3 linked regions of the Homo sapiens genome follow. The protein of the gene in region 1 purifies or fractionates together with the protein of each later gene. This does not show direct contact. Each region holds a gene or a part of one and is shown on either strand. Other genes may lie near its edges.

Region 1 (5,125 bases):
ACTGGTCGAATTCTACCAAGGAAGAAGAGGCAATGGCTGCCCTGCCTCTGGGAAAAGCCAGAGGCGCTTTCTACAGCCACAGAGGGAAGACTGTCTGAGCCTCTGCTTTTCTGGAAAGTGGGAAGAGAGGAGGCAGGTTTTGAGAGTGTTAACGAGGAAATGGAAATCCTGACTCAAGAGAAACTAAGGTTTAGAGAAGAACTGACAAAAAGCCTAAAAGGAGTACAGAAAGAAGGCAGGCAGCCAGCTCTAGCACTCCCTGGTCCACCTGTGCTCTCAGAAGGAAAGGCAAGCAAAGAGAAGGCTGAGGCTCAAGAGCGAGGGAACGGCAGAAGCCGTTTTAGGGAAGGACAGGAGGAACTCTGCCCGGAAGCCTCATCAGTCTGAGAATGTGATAAATGCTCAGCCACATGGTTCAGATGCCTAGGTGTGACCCAATTCTCCAAAAACGCCAGGGGTCAGGTATGACCAGGGGCCTGGGCCAGCAGGGGATGATCAGGGCCTTCCACACCCCTGTGGTCTGGTGGCCTGGCCTAGTTTACAGGCGCTCAGACCTCCAGACCACGGCAGGCAAGCGAGAAAATCCCGGTTCCTGCCGAGCACCTCTTCACCTCCTCGAGGTCTCCCCTTTTGACCCTGAGTAGCACACAGCTGCTCTGCTCAGGAGGAGGGTGGGGAACCACAGCCAGGGCCAGAGAGCACTGCTTCTCCATGGGGTGTGGCCAATCTAGAATTTATCCCTGAGAACTTCAATTGCCCAGAGGGGAGGTGATGGAAACCCAGCTCTTGAGGTTGAAACTCAGAGTCCAGGGTGCCTCTCAGGTGACCATTAGAACAGAAGGTGGTTTCATCTGCCAAAGCAACCTGTGCCCTAGCCTCCCGACCCACACAGATGACACCAGTGTGTGTGTGTGTGTGTGTGTGTGTGTGTGTGTGTGTGTGTGTGTGGTGTATGCAGATACACTAGTGAAAAGTCTGTTTTTCCTCCCTCTGTCTCCTAGAGGGAGAAGAGATCCACAACATCTAAAACTACTTTTATTTGGTTTTGGCTTATTTATTTATTTATTTATTTATTTATTTACTTTTGAGACAGAATCTCACCCTGTCGCCCAGGCTGGAGTGTAGTGACACAATCTCGGCTCACTGCAACCTCCGCCTCCTGGGTTCAAGTGATTCTCCTGTCTCAGCCTCCCGAGTAGCTGGGATTACAGACGCCGGCCACCACAGCTGGCTAATTTTTGTAGTTTTAGTAGAGACCAGGTTTTGCCATGTTGGCCAGGCTTTTCTCGAACTCCTGACCTCAGGTGATCCACTCGCCTAGGCCTCCCAAAGTGCTGGGATTACAGGTGTGAGCCACTACACCTGGCCTATGCTTTCATTTTTTACAATTTATTTTTTAAATTTATTTACTTATTTATTTTTTTTTTTTTTTTGAGACGGAGTCTCGCTCTGTCGCCCAGGCCGGACTGCGGACTGCAGTGGCGCAATCTCGGCTCACTGCAAGCTCCGCCTCCCGGGTTCACGCCATTCTCCTGCCTCAGCCTCCCGAGTAGCTGGGACTACAGGCGCCCGCCACCGCGCCCGGCTAATTTTTTGTATTTTTAGTAGAGACGGGGTTTCACCTTGTTAGCCAGGATGGTCTCGATCTCCTGACCTCATGATCCACCCGCCTCGGCCTCCCAAAGTGCTGGGATTACAGGCGTGAGCCACCGCGCCCGGCCTTAAATTTATTTTTGAGAGATAGAGTCTTGCTCTGTTACCCAGGCTGGAGTGCGGTGGCATGAACGCAGCTCACTGCAGCCTTGACCTCCTATGCTCAAGTGATCCTCCCACTTCAGCCTCCCGAGTAGCTGGGACTACAGGTATGTGCCCAGCTAATTTTAAAATTTTTTTGTAGAGACACTAGGTTGCCCAGATGGTCTCGAACTCCTGGGCTCAAGTGATCCTCTCACTTCAGCCTCCCAAAGTGCTGAAATTACAGGTGTGTGCTGCTGTGCCCAGCTGCATGGTTAAACGTTTAAAAAAATATGAGTATTAGGCCGGGCGCGGTGGCTCACATCTGTAATTCCAGCACTTTGGGAGGCCGAGGTGGGCGGATCACAAGGTCAGGAGTTTGAGACCAGCCTGGCCAATACGGTGAAACCCCGTGTGTACTAAAAATACAAAAATTAGCCGGGCATGGTGGCGGGCACCTGTAGTCCCAGCTACTCAGGAGGCTGAGGCAAGAGAATCGCTTGAACCCGGGAGGCAGAAGTTGCACTGAACCAAGATAGCACCACTGCACTCCAGCCTGAGCGACAGAGCGAGACTCCATCTCAAAAAATAAATAAATACATAAAATTAAAAAAATTTTAATTCACATGTATAAAAATATGTGATTAATGTTCTAGAAATTTTCTCTACACTAACCATGAATTTACCCTGCAAAGGCCTGGCCCCCAGGGGACTCCGTGGCTCCATGGCCTCCCTAAGTGTTAAGCTCCCCCAACCCCTGCCAGCTACATGGTCCAGTGAAACCTGAAGGAATTCTCACACACACAGACCCAGTTAGAATCTCAGCTTTACCCCTGCCTAACTGGAAGACCCAGGGCAAGTGACTTACTTGCCCAGAAATAGTGTTTCCTCATTTGTTTAAAAAATGTGGAAATAGGGTCTCCCGAAGGAGGGCTGTAAGTGGGGGATGAACAACTGAAAAGTATAAAGCTGATCCTAGCAAACAGCTTTGCCTCACACCTTCCTCCCTGTTCCAGTCCTTTACCAACTCACTGGTTTTGCCTCCAAAATGTAGGTCAAATCTGACCATGTTTTTCCCTCTTCCCGGCCACTGCCCCAGCCTGAGCCCAGAGCCTGCCCATCCTAGTCAAGATCTCCCTCTCTCCCTCCACCAGTCCCTTAAACAAGCTGAGTAGTTATCCCTCAGGGCCTCAGCAACTGCAATTTCCCCTGGGCTCCCCCAGCTCTCCTCCCCTTATCCTTTAGGCCTGGCTCAGGGGCTTCCCTTGGAGCAGCCTCCCCTACTCCAAGCACTCACTATCATGTCACCTGTTACTTGTTTCATGGCATGTACCACAATCAGGGATTATCTTGTGTACTGTATGTTGGCCCATTAGGTGTAAGTTCTACAAGGGCAATGGCCTTATCTATTTGGGTCACCACCTTGTCTCCAACCTGGTGGGTTGGTGGATACATGGATGGATGGATGGATGGATGGATGGATGGATGGATGGATGGATGGATGGATGGTTAGGTAGATAGGTGGAAGGCTGAATGGGTAGATGAGTGGGTGGGTGGATGGATGACTGGATGGATGATTGGGTGGACAGACGGAAAGGTAGATAGGGAGTAGGTAAATAGATAGATGGGTAGATAAATGGATAGAAGGATAAAATGGACGGATGGGTGATTGGGTGGATGGATAGATAAACAGATGGATAATTCGGCAGATGAAGGGAAGGATGGAATGGTGAGTGAGTAGAAGGATGGGTGGATTGTTAGGTGGATAGATGGAAGGTGAGTGAGTGGGTAGATGAATCAGTGGATGAGTGGATGAATGGATGGATGAATGGATGGGTGAATGACTGGGTGGATAGATGGATAGGCAGACAGGTGAGTAGGTGGATTGATGCGTGGATAAATGAATGGAAGGATGGATGATTAAGTAGATAGGTAGATGAATGGGTGGACAGTTGGATGGATGGATGGAAAGTTGAGTGGGTAGATAGGTGGATGGGTGGAGGGGTGAGTGGGTGGAAGGATGGGTAGACGGATGGGTGGATAGATGAATAGGTAGATAGGTGAGTAGGTGGATAGATGGGTGAATAAATGAATGGATGAGTGGATAGATAGGTGAACGGTTGGGTAGATGGGGGAGTGCAGGATCGCAGGCAAAATGAGTTTCCTTTTGCCTCCTTGATTCCCCCACTTCATGCTGTAGACAGACAGCCCTCTCACCAAAGGACCAATGCCCACTCCTCTTACCATAGCCCCACCCTGTTACCACCATTGGTGGCCCTTCCCAGGCTTGCCTGAGAAATCTCATCTCCTCATCCTTCTTCTCATCTTCGCTGATGATCTTGGAGGTGGTGATGCTCACCTCCACACCATCCACCACAAATTTGCGTGTCCGCTTGAGGGTTTTTTTGTACAGTTTCGGGTCCTGGCCAGGGAAAACCATTAGACAAGTCTCAGCATTTCAGCTAAGGACCCATGGCTGTCGCAGCAGGTGAGGCCACAGCTCTGCTGGGCCCACAGCTTCAGAACCACCCCCAGAGAGATGTGGCCATCCATCGTCCCTCTTGCCTCAACTTAACCTAGGAGCTGGGGGTTCTGAGCTTATTCCCTTGCTCTTCCCTGATCTCAGCCTTCAGAAACTGTGCTGAGGCCTCCCCTACCTTGCTGCCAGCACCTCTCATGCATCCAGGACATGGTGTCAGAAAGAGCTGCGTTCTTGCCAGGCACGGTGGCTTACGCTTGTAATCCCAGCACTTTGGGAGGCCGAGGCAGGCGGATCACAAGGTCAGGAGTTCGAGACCAGCCTGGCCAACACAGTGAAACCCTGTCTCTACTAAAAATACAAAAAGTAGCCAGGCATGGTGGCAGGTGCCTGTAATCACAGCTACTTGGGAGGCTGAGGCAGGAGAATCACTTGAACCCAGGAGGCGGAGTTTGCAGAGAGCTTAGATCACGCCACTGCACTCCAGCCTGGGCCATACAGCTAGACTCCGTCTCTAAAAAAAAAAAAAAAAAAAAAAAAAAAAAGAGCTGCGTTCTAACCCTCACTGCACCACTTACTTGCTCTGTGTCTCTGGGCCAGCCTCTTGTCCTGTCTGAGCCTCAGCTTCCTCACCTGTTCAGGGAGGATAGTCACACTACTTGCCTCCCAGGGTGGTTGTGAAGATTCAGTGAGAGAACACATGGCAGGCACACAGAGCAGTGCCCACTCCCGGCCTGTGTTCCATGCTTAGCATTTCTTTCTGACAGTTATTACTGCAGACCACACACAATCCTCGCGCATGGTGCCAAAATCCAAAGGAGCCCGAAAACCAAAGGCTGTTTTTATAACTGGTTTGGTAGCCAAAGCTGACCTGGCCTGAACTCCCCACCTGCTAGGAGTCACCATGAGATT
Region 2 (5,125 bases), on another chromosome or scaffold:
GTGTTCCCAGAATGCAGATTAGGGCACTGCACATGGAAGGGAAAAAAGAGATGGAGGAAGGGAGAGGACAAACCAGCCCACTTACAGAAGAGAAGGACGGCTCCAGTGCTGGAAACATGTTGGTGGCACTCCCATCCAGGGGCTTGTCTAAGACCAGGCGCCCTGGCCACGCCCCCACACTCTTCGGCCACACCTCCAGCTCTGACCACACCCCCATGCTCTTCAGCCACGCCCACAGGCTGCCCGGTCAAATTTTAGCCACATCCACCTCCACAGGCCTCAGTCAAGTCTCTAAGCCTTGACCAAGCCTGCAGGCTTCCGGCCAGGTCCCTTGAGTTCTGGGTGATCCTTCCAACGCCCTTCCCTATAGGCTACAGCCCTGACAGTGCCTTCAGGCCCAGGAACCACGTGAGCCCTCCTGCTACGCTTCCAAGGGTTGGCCACGCCTGCCACCCTGACCACACCCAGACATACAGGCTCTAGGCTCAGCTGCAGCGCTGTGGCCACGCCCGTAGGATTCAGCTCCACTCCGCCTCCCAGCCCCACCTCTAAGCCCTGGCCATGTACCTAGGCTCCAGTTCCACCCCACCTTCAAGCCCCGCCTCTAAGCCATGACCCATCCCCAGGTCCCAGCTCCACCCTGCCCCCACCCCCACCTCTAAGTCCTGGCCTTGCCCCAGGCCCCAGCTTCACCCCATCCTCAGACCCCCACTCACATGAGGTCCCAGTCCAGGCCCTCCCGCTCCACATCCCGCATGAGGTTCATCAGACGTCTCTTGAAGAAGATCTCAAAACGCAGGTCATCCTCAAACACAAGCGATTTCTGCAGCCCCCGGTCCACCACCTGAGGGAGGAAGCCCCGCCACATCACAGGGAGGCCAAGGCCAGGCCTGACCCTAAAGCACAGAGCTTTGCTTTGAGAAGGTTTGAAAGACCCGTAGAGAAGCCAGTGCATCTCCCTGCCTCTCCTAGCTCCAGGGACATCTGGACATCCAAACCTCTGCCCTCTGCCGTCCATAATGGATCTCAGAAGAGAAAGGCCTCCCAGCCCCTCAAATGCCCACGCCTCATGCACCTCCCGCCTTGCAGCCGCACACCCCCATTTGGCTTCACATTCGATAACAAGTTTTTCTTTTCTTTTTCTTTTTTTTTTTTTTTGAGACGGAGTCTCGCCCTGTCGCCCAGGCTGGAGTGCAGTGGAACGATCTCAACTGCAACCTCCGCCTCCCAGGTTCAAGTAATTCTGCCTCAGCCTCCTGAGCAGCTGGGATTACAGGCATGTGCCACTACGCCCGGATTTTATTTTTCTTTTTTTGAGATGGAGTGTCACTCTTGTCGCCCAGGCTGGAGTGCAATGGCATGATTTCAGCCCACTGCAACCTCTGCCTCCTGGGTTCAAGTGATTCTCCTGCCTCAGTCTCCCAAGTAGAGGGATTACAGGTGCCCACCACCACACCCAGATAATTTTTGTATTTTTAGTAGAGTCTAGGTTTCACCATGTTGGCCAGGCTGGTCTTGAACTCCTGACCTAAGGTGATCCGCCTGCCTCGGCCTCCCAAAGTGCTGAGATTACAGGCATGAGCCACCACGCCCAGCCATTTTTCTTTTTTCTGAGACACGGTTTTGCTCTGCTGTCCAGTCTGCAGTGCAGTGGCACGATCTTGGCTGACTGCAGCCTTAACTCCTGGGCTCAAGCCACTCTCCCACTTTAGCCTCCCAAATAGTTGGGACCACAGGTGTGCGCCACCATGCCCGGCCCTGATGGCCCAAGTTCGAAGCCTAGTCAGACACCCTCCTCCAATCACAGCCTCTCCCTCTGAGGGTGGATGAGGATGCCTGGGCTGGTGAGTGCCCCCAGCAGCACTGGGCAGGTGCTGGTTTAAAGTGGCTCTGTGGCCATGACTTCTAGTACTAAACATCAAGCACAGAGACCAGGCTGGGAGTAATGAGGATTTGTTTACAGGTCCCAGGCCCCAGACACCACCTGCTGCTCAAAAGGGCTCACCCCTACCCCCAGGCTCAGTTTCCACATTTGCGCAATGGAAGGATGGCAGGTACACCTGGGGGTGATACAGCTGGTGTGGCGCATCATTCACTAAAGAGAGGCCATGGGTCCCATGGCTGAGGCTGGATGCCTAGCCGGGGCTTTGGGGAACTCTTTCAACCCCTTTCCCGTCCAAATCTCCGATGAGATCTAGAGTCATAACTCTGGCCCCGCCCATCACTCAGGACACACCTCCTTCCAGATGTTGTAGTGGCTCAGGAAGCAGCCCAGCTCACCCTTGGTGAGGGGCCGGCCGTGGTAGGGGTCCCGGTAGCCAGGCAGCATCTGGATCCCCAGCGCCTCCACCTGGCTGGTGTTCATGGCTCTGGAGAGGAGGAGGAGAGGGTCACGAAGAAGGTTCACCCTGCCTGCCATTCTGCCATCCCCGGCCATTCCACCACCCCCTGCGGCGTTGAGCAGCTGGTCCACCTCTTGTAGCACTGGCACCCCTTCCGGGCACATGGGGCCTCACTCACCTGCACATGGTATACACTCGCGGGCAAACCTGCTCTCCTCCTCTCCTGGGGTCTGACTGACTTACCCCTCCACAGTCCCCACCAGTCTACACTGGCAGCATGCAAACCTACCCATTCCCCTGGGTCAGGACTCACTTGCCTTCCATGGTCTACAACTGTGAGGATCTGCCCCTTCCCCAGGGTCCCATTCACTTCCCCTTCAGGACGCCCACTGACGAGGTCTACATCTGTTTGGACACCACGCCCGCCCCCATCTGAATCACTTGCCGTCTACCAGCGAGGTCTACACCCACATCCACGTGCGGACCCGCCCCCCCACCCCCAGGCCTCGGACTCACTTGCCGTCCACGGCCTCCACCAGCCGGCACTCGATCTCCTGTGCCTGCAGCGCCCGCAGCATGCGCTCCCGCCGGTCCTGCCGCCGCCTCAGGTTGATCATGAAGACCTGCAGCCCGGAGAGTCCCCAGCCAGATCAGCCCCTGCAAACAAGGGCCCTCCAGCCCCCGCCCCGCCTCCAGGGAAGGCCCAGCTCACCTCGTCGAAGCCCATCTTGTCCGGTGTCTTGGTGGGAGCCGAGATGAAGCGGGAGGGCTCTGCGGGCGGGTGCTTCACTGTGGGGCACAGACGTTGAGGAGTCGCTGGGGTAAGGAGCCTCCAGCCTCTCTCCAACACGCTTTCCCCACCCACTCCATGGCTCCCAGTCAGACTGGCTCGGCCCACAAAGTCGACCTGGCTCCGCCCACATCAGCGCTGCCCTCTAGGAGCCCCTCCCATGTCATTTGAACCCTGCACAGCAGCCCAAAGCCCTGGCCACACCCCAGGCCCCAGCTTCACCCCGCCCCCAGTCCTGCCTCTCAGCCCTGGCCACACCCCAGGCCCCAGCTTCACCGCGCCCAAGGCCCCGCTACTCAACCCTGGACTCGCCCCAGGTCCCAGCCTCACCCTGCCCTTAGCCCCGCCTCTAAGCCCTGGCCACACCCCAGGCTACAGCTTCAACCTGCCCCCCAGCCGCACCACTCAGCCCTGGCCACGCCCCAGGCCCCAGCTTCACCCCACAGCCTCCCCCAGCCTTGCCTCTAAGCCCTGGCCATGCCCCAGGCTCCAACTTCACCCTGCACCCCCCCAGCCCCACCTTTAAACCCTGGCCATGCAACAGCTTCGCTCCGACCCCCAGCCCCGCTTCTAAGTCCTGGTCACACCCCAGGCCCCAGCTTCACCCTGCTCCCAGCCCCGACTCTCAGCCGTGGCCACGCCCTGGGCTCCAGCTTCACTCCGCCCCCAACCCTGCCTCTAAGCCCTGGCCACGCCCCATGCTCCAGCTTCACTCTACCCCCCAGCCCCACCTCTATGCCCCTGCCAACCCAAAGAACCCCCATTCCTACCTCAGGGCCTTTGCACATGCTGGATCCCTGCTTGAAATACCCTTCCTTTCCCTGCTCTGTAACGTTACTTCTCAGCTATGATGCCCTGGGCATGGGGGTCACCCTCCCCACTCCCACCTCCCTAGGCTGAGCCAGGCACCTCCTCTGGGCCCCAGCAGCACCTGGACTTGCACCACCAAAGCTCGCATCCTTGCTGCCCTAACCCCCTGGCCCTGTGCCTGTCTGTTGTGAGCCCTTTGGGAAGGACACCAGGTATGTCTGCTCACACTGGGCCCCTAGTGCCCAACACAGGGGCTTGGCACACAGCAGGCACTCAGTAATTGCTTGTAGAATGAACCAAGAAATGATGGCATGCTGTATATTCTTGATTGGCCTGGGCCTCAGCTTTCCTCATCTATAAAATGGGCCAATAAGCCACTGAGAGGTTTCACAAAGAGATGTCATGAGATCATGCACTATGTCATGGGGTGAACTGTGTCTCCCCAGTGCCAACCACCAGTACCCCAGGATATGATCCTATTTGGACACAGGGTTGTGTACAGAGGTCATCGAGTTAAAATGAGGTCATTAGGGTGGGCCCTAATCCACATGGCTTGTGTGCTTTTAAAAGGGGAAATCTGTAGCTCCTTGGGAGGCTGAGGCAGAAGGATTGCCCAGGAGTTCAAGGCTGCAGCGAGCTATGATGGTGACACTGCACTCCAGCCTGGGTGACAGAGACTCCATCTCCAAAAAAAGCAAAAAAGAAGGCCGGGCACAGTGGTTCATGCCTGTAATCCCAGCACTTTGGGAGGCTGAGGTGGGCAGATCATGAGGTCAGGAGTTCGAGACCAGCCTGGCCAACATACTGAAACCCTGTCCCCACTAAAAATACAAAAAACTAGCTGGGCGCAGTGGCTCATGCCTGTAATCCCAGCACTTTGGGAGGCCGAGGCAGGTGGCTCACAAGGTCAGGAGATCGAGGCCATCCAGGTTAACACAGTGAAACCCCATCTCCAATAAAAATACAAAAAATTAGCCGGATGTGGTAGCAGGCGCCTGTAGTCCCAGCTACTCGGGAGGCTGAGGCAGGAGAATGGCGTGAACCCAGGAAGCGGAGCTTGCAGTGAGCCGAGATCGGGCCACTGCACTCCAGCCTGGGAGACAGAGCGAGACTCCGTCTCAAAAAAAACAAACAAACAAAAAATAATAAAAATAAAAATACAAAAAATTAGCCAGGCGTGGTG
Region 3 (5,125 bases), on another chromosome or scaffold:
GCAAGCTACAGGTCAACTGCTGCTGAATGTTGAGTAGCTTCTCTCTTTCAAAGCGGCCCTGTTCAAGAATACCTGTGCACTTCTGCTCCAGTTCAATAATTTTTCCTTCCTGAGTGGTGGGCTCTTCATTCTTTACTCGCTCTTGTAAAAGATTCATCAGCTTCTCATTTTCTTGACTTAGCTGCTCTGCCCTCTCTCGATGCTGATGAAAGGATGTCTCTAAAATCGTCTTTTCATCCACCAGCTTCTCATTTTCAGCTGTCAATTCCTGTACCATTTGTTGCTGGTCTGATAATTCTTGTAGAGTAGCCTGTAGTTCTTCTGCAGTGCTATGGTGGTTTTCTTCCATCTTTTGTATCTTCTCTGTGAGGGAAGCCAGGGACAATTCACTTACGCTGTTTGGGGAACTCCCAGCAGTAGAACACTTTGAACTCTTAAAGGGGTTACTGGTGGAGGACAGGGGCCTTGAGGGTGTCTCTGCTGTAATGTGCTCAAAGTCGGAAGCATCTGGCGACAAAGAAGCTTTGGTAACATCGCTACTTGAGGAGCCTGATGTCCGTAATGCATTTCCATGTATGTTTTTTTTATACTCATCAATGTCACTGGACATCTGATTTCCAGTTGGGCTTCCGAAGCTTGACTCTTGAGTTATGGATGTTGGGCAGCTGCTGTCGCCAGTGTGACTTGCTGCCCCTTCTGAATTTGGGGAGTGCTCAAGATAGATCAGTTTCTCCTTCAGGACCCGGTTTTCTTCCTCTAGATCGGAAAGCTCTTTCTGAAAGTTCTTGTTCTTCTCCTCAAGAGCTCTTATCATAGGTTCCGTGTCACCTGGGGAGACTGATGTTCCATCGACATTTGGGCCCAAAGCATCAGTCCCCTCAGCGTTCAGAGTCCTTTTCTCTTTGTATTTCTTTAGTTCACTTCGAAGCCTGTTAATTTCACTATCTTTTGCTTTGGCTTCTGCCAAAAGTTCCCGAACTTGGGACTCAAGCGCAGCCTTTTCTCCACCTTCATTCTCTTGCTTGGGCTTTGTGGAAGGGGTCCTCAGGTGTTTCGTAGGAGTGGGAGTGTTGGAAGAAGTTGGACTGGACACTGATTTCCTGGGGTTGGAGGGACCACGTGGCACAGACCTCTCTCTTGAGACAGTTACTGAAAATTCCCGTGGGGCTGGAATGCCTGTCCGTTTAGTTGTTGTAAAGGCCCCTTAAAGACAGAAGAAGAAAAAAATGAAAAAATAAAGCAAGCATTCTTATAAACAAAACCCAAATGACTGTAAATCACATGGCACAGTGGACAGTGGCTGTCGCTCTTCATCCATTTCCTCCTCCTCTAGCTAATTACCCAGTTCTGACTGTGGTTTCTGTGCTTCCTCCCCACAGCCCTATACTTTGGGTGAGGCTGACTCCAAGCCTGAGCTACTCAGGATGACCCCATCCCCAGCCAGTTGCTGGTTCACGCATGGGCACACAACTCAATTAAGATCAATGTGACAAAGGGAAGGTTTTCTGGGCAAGCTATTAAACACCACGGGACCAGAGTGAGAAAATGTGTAGGTGTGGGAATGGCTGGCAACCACCCTGCCCTTTCAAGAGGAAGGTGGGAATGCAGATGGCAGAGAAGGAAGAAGGAAACTAAACTCTCAATAGCATTGTTAAGTTGCTAAATCAAATCAACCCTGAAGTTTGGCCTATAGCTGGCCTTTCAGTTAGGCAAGCCAGTAAATACCCTTCCTATAAGTCACCTTGAGCTGGGTTTTCTGTAACTTGCAATTTAGTACATCTGCACTGATAATGTTGGCAACAAAAACAATGGCCTTTTGACAAAATACAAGTTCTTTGTGAATTTCTCAATAAACACTTTAAAAAACATCATTAACATATTTTGACAGCATAAATTTGATTAAGAAATCAGAAGATACAGATAATACTGAGAGATGGATCTGATACAATGACATATCACTTTTGCCGTAAGTGGAAATGATGTACTCATTTGTGTACATGGAGAAACAAGAATAAATGAAATAAGAACATACCTATGTTACTTGACATGATATAGACATAATACAGAATACTTGTAACAGCAAATGTAAGGTGTAAATAATTCTCTTTTATTTTCATCTGTACTATATCACAGACAATGTAAAAACAATTCTAGGGGTGAAACCCAGACATCAGTCTCCATTGTGCTCTAGAATTGAAACCCACCTCAGATGTTACAGTGTAAAATAAAATCCTGGACTTTTTTTTTTTTTTTTTTACAAACTGAAAGACTATTTGATGAGTCAAGGCTGGCTGCTGTCACTTACACAACTCTACATGCTTTCAGTGAGAGGTGTAATGAAGGGTCCCAGAAGTGGTCATCAACCTGTAGGCCTCTACAGTGTAGGAAGGGCACGGGAGGGAATGTTCCCATAGACTGGCAGCAGCCCCAGCGCTAAGGCAGGTTCCACACCTAACAAGATGGGCAGCTGTAAACCCACCACCAAGACTATTTCTGAGCCCTGAGCAAACACACACCTAAACATCCTGAATCCTGATGACATAAAGGCTGATGGCATTCATTACTAAACATCTAACAGCTGAGCTCTTTTGAAACTTTGACCTAATAAAGGCTGAACTGTCAAATTAATATATAGAAAACTATGGTTTTTAAATTAACTTCTTCAAATTAAGTTTCTGGAAAGCCAAGAGTATATCATAGACTTTTAATATAGTTGACCCCTGAACAACTTGGAGGTTAGGGGTGCCAACCTTTCATGCAGTCAAAACTCTGTGTATAACTTTTGGCTCCCCAGAAACTTAACTACTAATAGCCTATTGTTGACCGGAAGCCTGACTGAAAACATAAACAGTTAACACACACTTTGTGTTATATGTATTATATACTGTATTCTTAAGATAAAATGAGATAGAAAAAAGAAAATGTTATTCAGAAAACCATAAGGAAGAGGAAATACATTTGCAGTACCATACTGTATTTATCAATACCATAAGTTTACATGGTCTGTTTGCAAAATGAATCATCTGTCTGAAGCGACAGGCAACCATTCCTCAATCTAGCAAGCAATTCAATGCTGTCAGGGGTTTTATTGGCTTCTAGGGAGCACTGCCAGCATCACTAGTGGCACTTTGTATGGGTCCCATAGTGTTATTCAAGGTTTGTGGTACTGCACTAAACACAACAAAACATACTCAAGAATCTCAAGAGGTCACTTTTTACTGCGATCTGAGGTGTACTGGAGAGAGGAACTGCTCCCACAGAGATGATTAGCATCACAGTACCTTCCAAGCAGCTACCCCCAATGCTTGAGCGCACTGCAACAACATCAGGAAGTGGCTATAGAATTGTTACAGGAGTACTGTATGTACTACAGTTAATTGTATGCAGTTATAATACTGCATCTTTATATTTGTTTACATTTCTCTCAACTATGAATAGCACCATGTACAGTCTGTGTGTGCATAAGTTTAGACAAATTTTAACTTTTTATAATAGATTTGTGTATATTTTATGGTAGTAAATGATAAAACTGATTATTAGTATCTACATGTATTTTATGCATTCATGACATATGTAACTTTTTCTCAATTGTTTTCATATTTCTAGACTACCCAGTTCATCTGAATTTTTTTCAAACTGTTGCAACTCTCCAAATAATTTTCCAATGTATTTATTTTTTTTAAGTCTCCATATAAATGGACCCACACAGTTCAAGCTAGTGTTGTTCATGGGTCAGCCTTACTTATAGGTGTCACAGATACCTAACCTGCATCATACTACACACTCAACGAGGAAAAGACTTATTTAATTATTCTTGTGAAATAAGTATTAAAAACCACTAAGCACTAAAATGTTTTAGTAATGCTAGTTCTCTAGAATAAAGTCATTGCAGCAAGGACCGTATTAAAAACTGGAAGATAACTAAAGTTTCACCATAACTCTAGTCAGAACAGGCAAACCTGAGAGTCCAGGACTGATCATCACACTGGCATTTGTTATTCTTAATAACATCACTAAATTAAGGCTGACTTTTTCTTTCTTTTTTTATTTTTTTGAGATGGAGTTTTGCTCTTGTTGCCCAGGCTGGAATGCAATGTGCGACCTCAGCTCACTGCAACCTCTGCCTCCAAAGTTTAAGTGATTCTCCTGCCTCAGCATCCCGAATAGCTGGAACTACAGGCGCGAGCCACCATGCTCGGCTAATTTACTGTATTTCGTTTTTTTGTTTTTTTTTTTTTAGTAGAGATGGGGTTTCACCATGTTGGCCAGGCTGGTCTCGATCTCCTGACCTCAGGTGATCTCCCCGCCTTGGCCTCCCAAGTGCTAGGATGACAGGCGTGAGCCACCGTGCCCAGCCACTTTCTTTTTTTTAAACCTTCAATTGTTTGTTGGTTTTGAAGCTGGAAAAATTAATATAGAACAGATCAAGTCTGCTGTTATTTCCAGCTACAGTTTAACACCTTCCTTTTGCTGCCAAATTGCAGTCTGTTCTCCCCATAAGTGTTACTTCTGCCTTATCTATACTACTAGGAATTTTTAAAAAACCATGAAACTAAAGTATATTTATGAATGGATGTGTATTATGAAATGTACAATCCAGCCATATTTTTGTTATATCTATTCTTTTTCCTTTTTTTTTTTTTTTACTATGTCTGTCTCTGTTTTCCAAAAGATTCTTCCCATCTCTGTACACCTCATTTCAGAAACTGTTACAGAGCACAGGTTAGGTTCAGAGTTGCTAAAAATTCATCATCAGACCAATGATGATGGTCTTGGTTGTGCACCCACCATGTGAGCCCAGGCCTCCAGCCCAAACACACCTCCTCGTGGGTACTGACAGGGAAAAGTAAAGAGCAACAGCCCTACAGCTTACGACACCTCCTTGAAGCAGTGGGAGTCAGACCTCACTGCTAACCAAAGCACTCTGAAGTCCTGAGACTGGCCATGCTTCCTTACACAGCACCACATAAGGGACAGTGGAGAGAAGGGCCAGTGGAACAGGGATTGGCTCAGCCAGCACCATTGGATCTTTTGTGCTGCTCCCACCCCGTCATCACTTATGTGTACCATCCTCCTGAGGCTGGCTGATTCCAAGAAGTTAACATAAAAGCAAGCTCCATCTCAT

Evidence for each region.
Region 2: the proteins of STK10 (region 1) and COLGALT1 fractionate together in Homo sapiens (co-fractionation; one large-scale study listed by BioGRID). This does not show direct contact.
Region 3: the proteins of STK10 (region 1) and SPECC1 purify together in Homo sapiens (affinity purification with mass spectrometry, with the first as the bait; one large-scale study listed by BioGRID). This does not show direct contact.

What each region holds. Positions count from the first base shown.
Region 1 is NC_000005.10:172,086,207-172,091,331, forward strand, and holds part of STK10 (serine/threonine-protein kinase 10), read right to left. Parts: intron 4,157-5,125; coding exon 4,026-4,156; intron 1-4,025. UniProt on the Homo sapiens protein: Serine/threonine-protein kinase involved in regulation of lymphocyte migration. Phosphorylates MSN, and possibly PLK1. Involved in regulation of lymphocyte migration by mediating phosphorylation of ERM proteins such as MSN.
Region 2 is NC_000019.10:17,575,201-17,580,325, reverse strand, and holds part of COLGALT1 (procollagen galactosyltransferase 1 precursor), read right to left. Parts: intron 3,132-5,125; coding exon 3,055-3,131; intron 2,966-3,054; coding exon 2,859-2,965; intron 2,370-2,858; coding exon 2,237-2,369; intron 845-2,236; coding exon 717-844; intron 1-716. UniProt on the Homo sapiens protein: Beta-galactosyltransferase that transfers beta-galactose to hydroxylysine residues of type I collagen. By acting on collagen glycosylation, facilitates the formation of collagen triple helix. Also involved in the biosynthesis of collagen type IV.
Region 3 is NC_000017.11:20,200,411-20,205,535, reverse strand, and holds part of SPECC1 (cytospin-B), read right to left. Parts: intron 1,204-5,125; coding exon 1-1,203.